3 separate regions of the Homo sapiens genome follow, and regions 1 and 2 are each linked to region 3. Evidence: fine-mapped QTL for protein levels in blood plasma. A gene starts in region 3. Each other region holds a variant in brackets. All regions are shown on one strand. Distances are from middle to middle.

What was found. PIP is the posterior inclusion probability: the model's chance that the variant is causal. Protein levels are from antibody-based Olink assays in UK Biobank. Linkage for the fine-mapping came from a reference panel and not from the study's own genotypes, which makes the PIPs less certain.
Region 1: its variant is fine-mapped to the plasma level of the GRIK2 protein (UK Biobank, PIP above 0.99).
Region 2: its variant is fine-mapped to the plasma level of the GRIK2 protein (UK Biobank, PIP above 0.99).

Annotation. Positions count from the first base shown.
Region 1 is chr6:100,501,109-100,503,869 of GRCh38, forward strand. No RefSeq gene overlaps it. Among named protein-coding and RNA genes, the nearest start is that of SIM1, 38 kb to the left of the region's middle. The variant A/AAAAAAG (reference allele first, on the strand shown) is at 1,443.
Region 2 is chr6:100,880,338-100,883,098 of GRCh38, forward strand. ASCC3 (activating signal cointegrator 1 complex subunit 3) reads right to left here and starts at 992. Exons shown (of 42, transcript NM_006828.4): 1 at 724-992. LOC107984041 (a long non-coding RNA gene) reads left to right here and starts at 1,120. Exons shown (of 8, transcript XR_007059692.1): 1 at 1,120-1,317. RefSeq lists an enhancer at 836-955. The variant C/T (reference allele first, on the strand shown) is at 1,529.
Region 3 is chr6:101,392,332-101,395,092 of GRCh38, forward strand. GRIK2 (glutamate ionotropic receptor kainate type subunit 2) reads left to right here and starts at 1,377. Exons shown (of 17, transcript NM_021956.5): 1 at 1,377-1,506.

The DNA of each region.
Region 1 (2,761 bases), 890 kb before region 3:
CAAGGATTTCTTCAATATTTCAGTTTCTCCAAAGGCCACTTGTAGGGTAATGTGTTTTTAGAGGAATGCATTTTTCTAAAGGCTCAGGAAATAAGATTGAGGTTTTACTAAGATGTCTGTATTATTCTGTTTCTGGTAACAACAGCCCTATATTAGAAGCCAGTAGCATATTTTTTCTCCTTATTTTTTGGATAGAATTAGGCTTCAGAAGTTGAATAAATACCGTAAAAATGGTTGCTTCTGAAAGAAAAATCAGATATTTGCTTTTAAAAGGGAAGGGTTTAGGTTTTTACTGAATATATTTAAATTGATTTTCATGCTTATACAAGCATGAGAGTAACACGACTGCCAGGAAGATTGGACGGAATGGGTATTGCTTGCAATATTAAGGAAAGTACATTAATGCTTTTAAAGAACATTACAGAATTTGCTTAAAATTTTTATTTCACTCTGGGTGCAACATACCTTATGATCAAAACACTCAGTGAGAGTGTGAGTTGCCTCCACTCTTGCTCTCAAAAGTTGTTCTGCTTCCAGAGTGATCCATTTCTGATTATTTGGATATAAAAAATGGCCCTTAACAAGATTCTAAAGTTTGTCCTCAGAACCCAGCTGGGAAGTAATAAAGCAGTCAGACTTCACCTGCACTGTCTGGATATCCTAGGTGCCCTTTACTGTCCCATCAATACATGTTCCCAAAAAGTGCTCTCAGAAGTAATTCACATTCCCATGTGAGTGCCAAGCTACACCTGAAAGTGTACACGTATTTTGCATTTTGACAGGTGGGAATCCTGTAGCAAAAAAGGAATGGAGCACAAATCTCTCTCTGGGCACAACAATTTTTCTGTTTGGGGTGGGAGTAGAGATGGTGAGGTGGGGCTCTTAGCTTACCACCCAGTTGACACATAAAATTAATCCTGAGGATAAGTTTGTTTGCTATTGATCATCTTAGACTTCCATTTACATTATAGTTACTCTTTATAGTTCTTTATCATTTTCTAAGCATTTTCACATAAATGATTCATTCAACAAAATTGATTGAACACCTGCTATGTTCTAGGTACTGTGTGTACAGCAATGACGTTCACTGCCCTTCTTATCATGACGGAGCCAATGACTCTGAGAGAAGCCTGGGCAGGTGTTACCTCTGTTTTTGGAGGTGAGGAAATGGGAACAGAAGAAAGTTGATCAGATACATTGTCCTAAATCTTACAAAATGTGGCCAGATCACCAAATATAGCACATAGTGAGGTAGCATTTCAGAACCTCATTAAAAAGCAAAAAACTAGCCAGGCATGGTGGCATGTGCCTGTTGTCCCAGCTACTCAGGAGTCTGAGGTGGGAGGATTGGTTGAGTGGGAGGTTGAGTCTGCAGTTAACTGTGACTGCACCACTGCGCTATTCCAGCCTGGGCAAACAGAGCAAGACTCTGTCTGGAAAAA[A/AAAAAAG]AAAAAGAAAAAGAAAAAGAAAAAGAAAAAAGCCAAAACCCTAAACTGCTTTTCTTGATACAGCAAACCTAGCTTAAAAACAAAACTTATTCCTTCCAGATCCCTGGTGAAATTGTGTTCTAATAGGCAAATATCATGTTTTCTGATAATAATTACCACCTAAAGTAACACAGGTAGAGATGCACATTCCTGGTAGACAGCCTGTAATTAGGCCACTTTTGTATGTACTTGAGCTTATTTGAAAGCTCATTTGAAGTTACTGGCATTCTTTGTTAAAATTACTATTAGACACTTCCATGCAATATCAGTTTCAGACATTTAAAGAAGTATGTAAGGATGGGCTTCGAGTGTGTCCAGGAGCCCAGTGGAAAGAGACAGCTATGTTGAGGCAGATTATGTTTGACAAATGAAGATCTCCATCGGTAGCTTGCTTGTTCATTATTTTAAAATTGTGTTGTGAAGATTTTGTATTTTTTTTTCTCTCACTTCAATCCAAACTTTCTCTTCTGTAATTTAAATGTACTTTTTTTTTTTTTAGTGGTCCACTCTGGTGACATTTTAAAAATAAGTAATAACCCATGCATGCAATTTGACTAAAAAGCAATTGCAAACCTAGAACTTACACATTCAAATAAATTGAGTCATTTTAGGTGAATAAACTTTTAGGTGAACTTTGGAGCATATGCACCAATCCTGGTGTGTTGACATAAAGAACATTTTTAGAACCTTCTGACTACAGTTAGTGTCATCAGAAGAAAAGCAGTTTTGTTTTTTATGGTAGTCAGTATTATTCAGTGTCATTAGCTGTCTAATTCTCAGAAATTATTTATTTCAGGATCTCCATTCATCCCTCAAAGGAATAACATTTGGCATCTTCTAGGCCTTTTGGAAAAATGAATTATCAGCTGCAGGTAGTTCCAAAACTAGCTAGAACAATCCTCTACATCCTGGAAAGTACAGTTCTCTGAGGCCAAGAGCCAGCCACACTTGGGATGGAAGCTCACACATGAAATTCATCTCAGATCAGCTCTGCAATCCTCAAATCATTACAAACTCCTTCCAATATAACTTGGAGCCAAAAAGTATGATCATTCAAAGTGACTGTACTTGTTTTCAATGGTCAGGAGTGGCACCTACATGGCTTAGCAAGTTCCAGTAACATCAAGGACACCCAAGTAATAAAAGTAACAAGTAAAGAAATGTGGATTTGGGGGATTCAAAGAACTTTTAATTAGAAGTTGTGATTCTGCTCAACCAACATGGTTTGATCTATAGTCCATCATGTTCTTCAGGAAGTCTCTATGGAATGGTTAACAACT
Region 2 (2,761 bases), 510 kb before region 3:
GCTGTCAATCTCACCTAACCTAGGGAAAGAAAGAAAATGTAACCATGAGTTTGAATGCACAAGTGACAACACATCAAACTTTTACCAGCCCCTAGAATTATGCTTCTTTTAAACCAAAGAATAGCAAATACCATTAGCACACTGCATTCCATGAGTAAGTTAATTTATAAGAAACCTATTTGAAATGACTGCCCAGTACTCACAAAACCTCCCTAGCACCCACATACACATTTATTTATTTCAAAATGACATTATAGGCTCCTTGATTGCGAAATTCACCCACAATCCATCACGGTCAGCTACCTATTTACTTTCCAGTGTGTTGGGGGAAAAATATGAGGAAGATTTCTTTCCCCAAATCTACGTGAAGAAAACGAAGTTATCAAGGCTTTGTAACAGAAAAAAAGAAAACAAATTACCCATGCATGGGACAGAAAAACCTCATCTGGTCACGTTGTGGCTTAACACTTGGACAATATGTAGCTTAGGTTAAGTTTTCTATCCCCAACCCCACCTACAAACTCTAGGAATGGGCGGTATTGTTGCGAGACCCCGGACTCGACCTCATGCCACTGAAAAGGATGACAGGTCGGGACTTGCCCCGGAGGCAGGAAGAGAATCTCTGGCGGGTCGCGTAGCCCGCCTCGCCGTCCCCGCCTCCAGCCAGCTCCCCTGGCCGCGGCGACCCTTCTCGTCCTCCCACCTCCACCTCCACCTCCTCACCTCTCGGCCTGGCTCACGCGTTTCCCATCACTCTGTCAGCTCCTGCCACCGCGCCTTCTTCCCTTTCGGTTTTACTTTAACTTCCCACGCCGGGTGAGGAGCTGAGCGCAGGGCCAAAGATGCGAGCGGGCAGCTGTATCGCCGCGCCCCGTCCGCCCTCCAAGCCGCGCTTGCCGGGGTCGCGCCCAGTCACAGGGAACCGCGTGTGAGGACCATCAGTCAGACAGACAGACGCAAAGACGCACAGACCCGGCGAGGAGGGACAGAGTGGAGCTGGCGCCGGCCTACACGTCACCGCCCCGCTGCAGCGCCAACGTCGGCACGTCGACTCGTCGACTCCGGGCCCTCTGCCCCGCCCGCGTGCGCGCGCCGCTCCGCCTCCCGCCTCCAGCCTCTAGTCCGCTGGGTTCGGAGGAGCAGAGGCGGAAGGTCCCGGCGGCGGCGAGGATGCGCCCCAGGGCGGGAGCGGGACGCTCCACTTTACCCTGGCTGCCCGCAACGGGCCAGGCCTGCCGTCTCTACCTCTCTACCTGTGAGTTTTTTCCCTGCATTTACTTCAGTCTGCCGCGTCTTCTCCCCGCCCTTCTCTGTAAGGTAAATATGTGGAGGAAATAATTCCTATTAAAGGTAAAGGAAAGGAGAGCAATTTGAATGAAGAAACAGGTAGTTGCTATCGTCGTTTTCAGCCAAAGCCCTCTGGCTGCTAGAGAGTATACATGGTTCTCTGGTGTCAAGGCCTGTTTTCCATAAGCTTTCTGGATTCTCAGCTTAGTTCCCTCAAAGTGATCTCTGCAAGTCGGCTCTT[C/T]GGTCAGAAGACCTCCTCCAAAAACAGAAAGCCCAAAGATTCCCTAACTCGATTGAAAAGATAGGAAGATACGAAGAAAAACTAACCTAAAGAATTGTGTGGTTTATCTGCAAAGAGTTCTAGACTAAAAGCCAACAATGCAAAGATAGTATGAGTTAATATGTTTGTTGTGGCTCTCTTCTGCCATTCCCGCTTCCTCAAGGTAATGTGCCCCGATGCCTGGTAGAACTGTTTTGTAGAGGCAGCCAATAGTGATCCAGTTATTGTCTTTACTGGTCAGACCACCTCTGAAGTGCTGTGTTCAGCATTTGAAGACTTTAATCAAGCTGGCATTATATCAGGGAAGAGCAAAATGATGACGAGAACTCAAAAACAGGGCAAGTGAAGAAGGATTGATTAAACCTTCCAGGACTCACCTAGAAGAGAGAAAACTACTGGACTCTCTCCAAATATGAAATGACCTATCATGTGAAGTTGATTTGTTTCATGTGATGCAAACTTCAGGGAACAGATTTAAGATCCTGAAAAGAAGATGCCCTTGTAGCACGACCCAAAGAATTGCCTACCTTAGCATGTGTGAATACCTCAACCACAGAATTTTGCTTCAAGGAGATTCTGAAGCTCACTTAATAGGGACTTGGTACAGGGGAGCCACACATCAACAGAATAATTAGTTGATGGTTTTGTTAAAGATATTTCCAGTCTTGAGATTACATGTGTCTTTGGTCCTGGACTTCATAGAGTTTACAAGTTAGTTCATGAGACAAGACAAATGCATCACAAAAATAAATAATGCAAGGAGGCCAAGTGATAATGAGAGGTGCTGATAAGTGCTAGGAATTCACATGACAGATTATTCCCATCACAGTTCCAGAGGCTTAAGGGAGAAGAGAGGAACTGAAAATAGACTACCTAGAACTGCCCTATCCATTGGGGTAGCCACCAGTTAAATACGTCTCTTGACATTTGAAATGTGGCTTGTCCAAACTGAGACATGCAATGAGTCCAAAATGTACACCAGATTTCAAAGACTTAGAAAACAAATGTAAAATATTGTAATTCTTATGTCGATTACATGTTGAAATAATATATAATGGATCAAATAAAATATGTTAAAATTAATTTCAACTTTATTTTTACTTTTTATGTGACTTCTAGAAAATTTTTAATTACATAGGTGGCTTGCATCATATTTGTATTACATAGTCCTGGCCTGGAAGGAAATTCAGTTAG
Region 3 (2,761 bases):
GAATTAGATAGATAGTGGAGAACCACCAGGGACTGGAACTGCTAGGGGACTGCAGAGCCGTGGAATCCCCCCTGGCCCCTTCTTTATGCAGCCCGTTTGAAATGGTCTCTTGAGCCCAGTGCGCCTGGCCTGTTCCCGCTTAGCCTCACTTAAATCTCCTCGCGAATCTGAGCTGGCCAACTTCCTCTGGGGGAAACTGCTAAACTCAGCTCCAGTTAATATTGTAGGGCTGAGGATAAAATAGCAACGGTTTTGAATAGATGTTGACTTTTCCGACCCAGAGGAGCGGAACTCAGGGATTGTTTGCAAAAGCTAATCGTTTCCACAGTGAAGCAGGGAGAGCCTGGTGCGCTCACCGCCGCCAGCCCCTCCCTGGAAGCCAAGCTGCGGGAAGACTCTGGGACTCAGTTGCCCCTCCCCATCTCTGGCCTTTAAAAGAGTCCTCCCGAGAACTTGGACCAGTGGCCGCCAAACCAGGGCTGCTTCCCAGACTCCTGTCTCCAATCTTGGAGTCTGCGACCTCAGGTTCGGCGCCCACTAGATCTCGAATCCAACTTCTTTCTGAAATGTGTTTAGGTTGAGAGTTCCGGGGCCTGGGCGGGAGTTTGGTGGGGAGAGGGGAGTCTGCTATTTAAGGCGCCATACATACACAGAGACAGCCCGCCCGACCTCCTAACACTCAGGAAAAGTCAATTTCCAAGCATCTGTTCTCAATAATGGTGGCAGGGAGCAGGGCACTGTGACTCCCAGCATCTGAGGGAATACCCGCAGCAGCGCTACCAGAGCGCATTTGCTCTATGCGCTGGAGGTCGGGGTGGGAGGGTGCGCAGATCAAGATCTTTTTTTGCGAACCTCAGGGAAATGACCGTAGTTGGACTAAGAGGTCCACTTTGGAGACTACCAGCAGCCCTCCAAGCCCTGGCAGTGGAGAAGTTTCGTTGCTATGGTTTCGGAGAGGCATAAAAGCCATCACCCAGAAGCAAATGTGTTTGGGCTCCTTATATGTGTTGTCACCACCCAAGGCTAGGCAAATTCCTCGGCGCTTTGCATGCATCACTCACTCCCTGACAGAGCATCTTGGCCTTAGTCTCCCCATCCCAGGAGGCGGGTGTGCGCTAAGGGAGCGAAGTCCAGCCGGAGGCTTCGTAACATCCAAGTCTAGGGACACCAGGAATTCTCTCGCTCTAGCTCCTGTGGTCCAGGGGTGGGAGATGCCCCCGAGTGGCCGCGGCGGCCAGGAGCGTGCAGGGGCCACGGGGAAAGGAGCGCGGCGCCTTTAAAGCAAGAGGCGAGGAACCCCCGCCAGGAGGCGTGTCTGTCTCTGCCGCCGCCGCCGCCGCTGCTGCTCCTCGGTCACCGTCTTCGCCGCTGCCGTCACTCGCGCTCGGCGCCGGCGGCTGCGCTGGTCGGTCTGGTAGCTGGGGACTTTTCCGCCCGACCTCCTCCGGCTGCTCCTCCCCGAGGACCACCCCACCCCCTCCCCGCCCACCTCACCCCTAGCTCCAGGTAAGGACTCCCCGGCTGTGGGCTGCACTCCGGGCTCCTTCACGAGGTGTTTGTTTTCAAGAGGACGGGAGGGACTGCGGGTGGGCGAGGGGCATTTTCCACCTGGAGAGAAGGAAGAAGGCGAACAGTAGCGCTGCGGACGTCCGTGCGCTCGGGGCGCCCGCTGGACGGATTCACTGCGAGTCTTTGTCGGGCTTATCTCAGCCAATTCCCGTCAAGCATGCAAGTGGCTCTGTTGGCTGCAGTCGCCTATGTTCTCCACATAAAATGATTTAAGAAGTGGACGTGTCAGGAAGTGGCCTCAGCTACGGGGACTCACGCGAGGCGAAGAGAATGAGACAGATGGCAAGAAGCTGTGTGGCTGCCGGCGGGTCTGACGAACTCCCCATCCCTCCTTCTGCCCACCCATCCTTCCATTAACCCTACTCCTTAGTTCTGCGCTGAGGAAGTATATTTATTTTAACCGGCACCCGTATTAAGAGCTTCTGAAAAAACTTGGAGGGCGTCCCATTAGGGTAAGGAGTGGGCAGTGTTACCAGGGTGGATCATAAACCTCAAGAACTTTTAACGAACCACATCCTCTGATATTTTTACCTTTAAGGAGATAGAGTTTCTTTACCAAACAACACGACCGAGCTGAGGCTCCTTAGAGAATAATTTCCAATTTAGGCAATGGGGAATATTAGAAAACTTACTATTAGTAGCCTTTTGGTAATGCACAGATTATCTTCTATCGTTTATTCATCTCCATACTGTAAGTATTCTGTCATCAGAAATTATCTTATGGATTGATGATTATTTTCATTTCACGAGAGATGATTGGTTCATTTGAGTCTTAATTAGTCAGTTTAGTTACTGAAATAAATGCAATTGTATTTCAATCTTGATTTGTCTTAGTTCATTACTTTCTAACTTTATAGAGTCTATTCCTGTAACCACCAAGGCAGCCTATCAACTTCCAGTGGCCTTAAAAACTTTTGAGTCAAACAAACAACAAAAAATTGAAATGCACAAGAGCAAGGTGATAGAGAATTGAGCAATGTTTGGAAGTCTTATCTGTTTGTTTTCTCCTATTTAAACCCATTGAAAATCACACAGGCTGAAATTTAAAAAAAAAAGTTCTGGGATATGTAAATTTATTCCACTTCAATTTGTTAATTAAGATACACTTATTTTAGTGTCTAAAAATTAATCAAAACTCTAAATGTCATTAATCATCAATGCAGCAGAATGTTGCTGGAACAGCTGATAATGT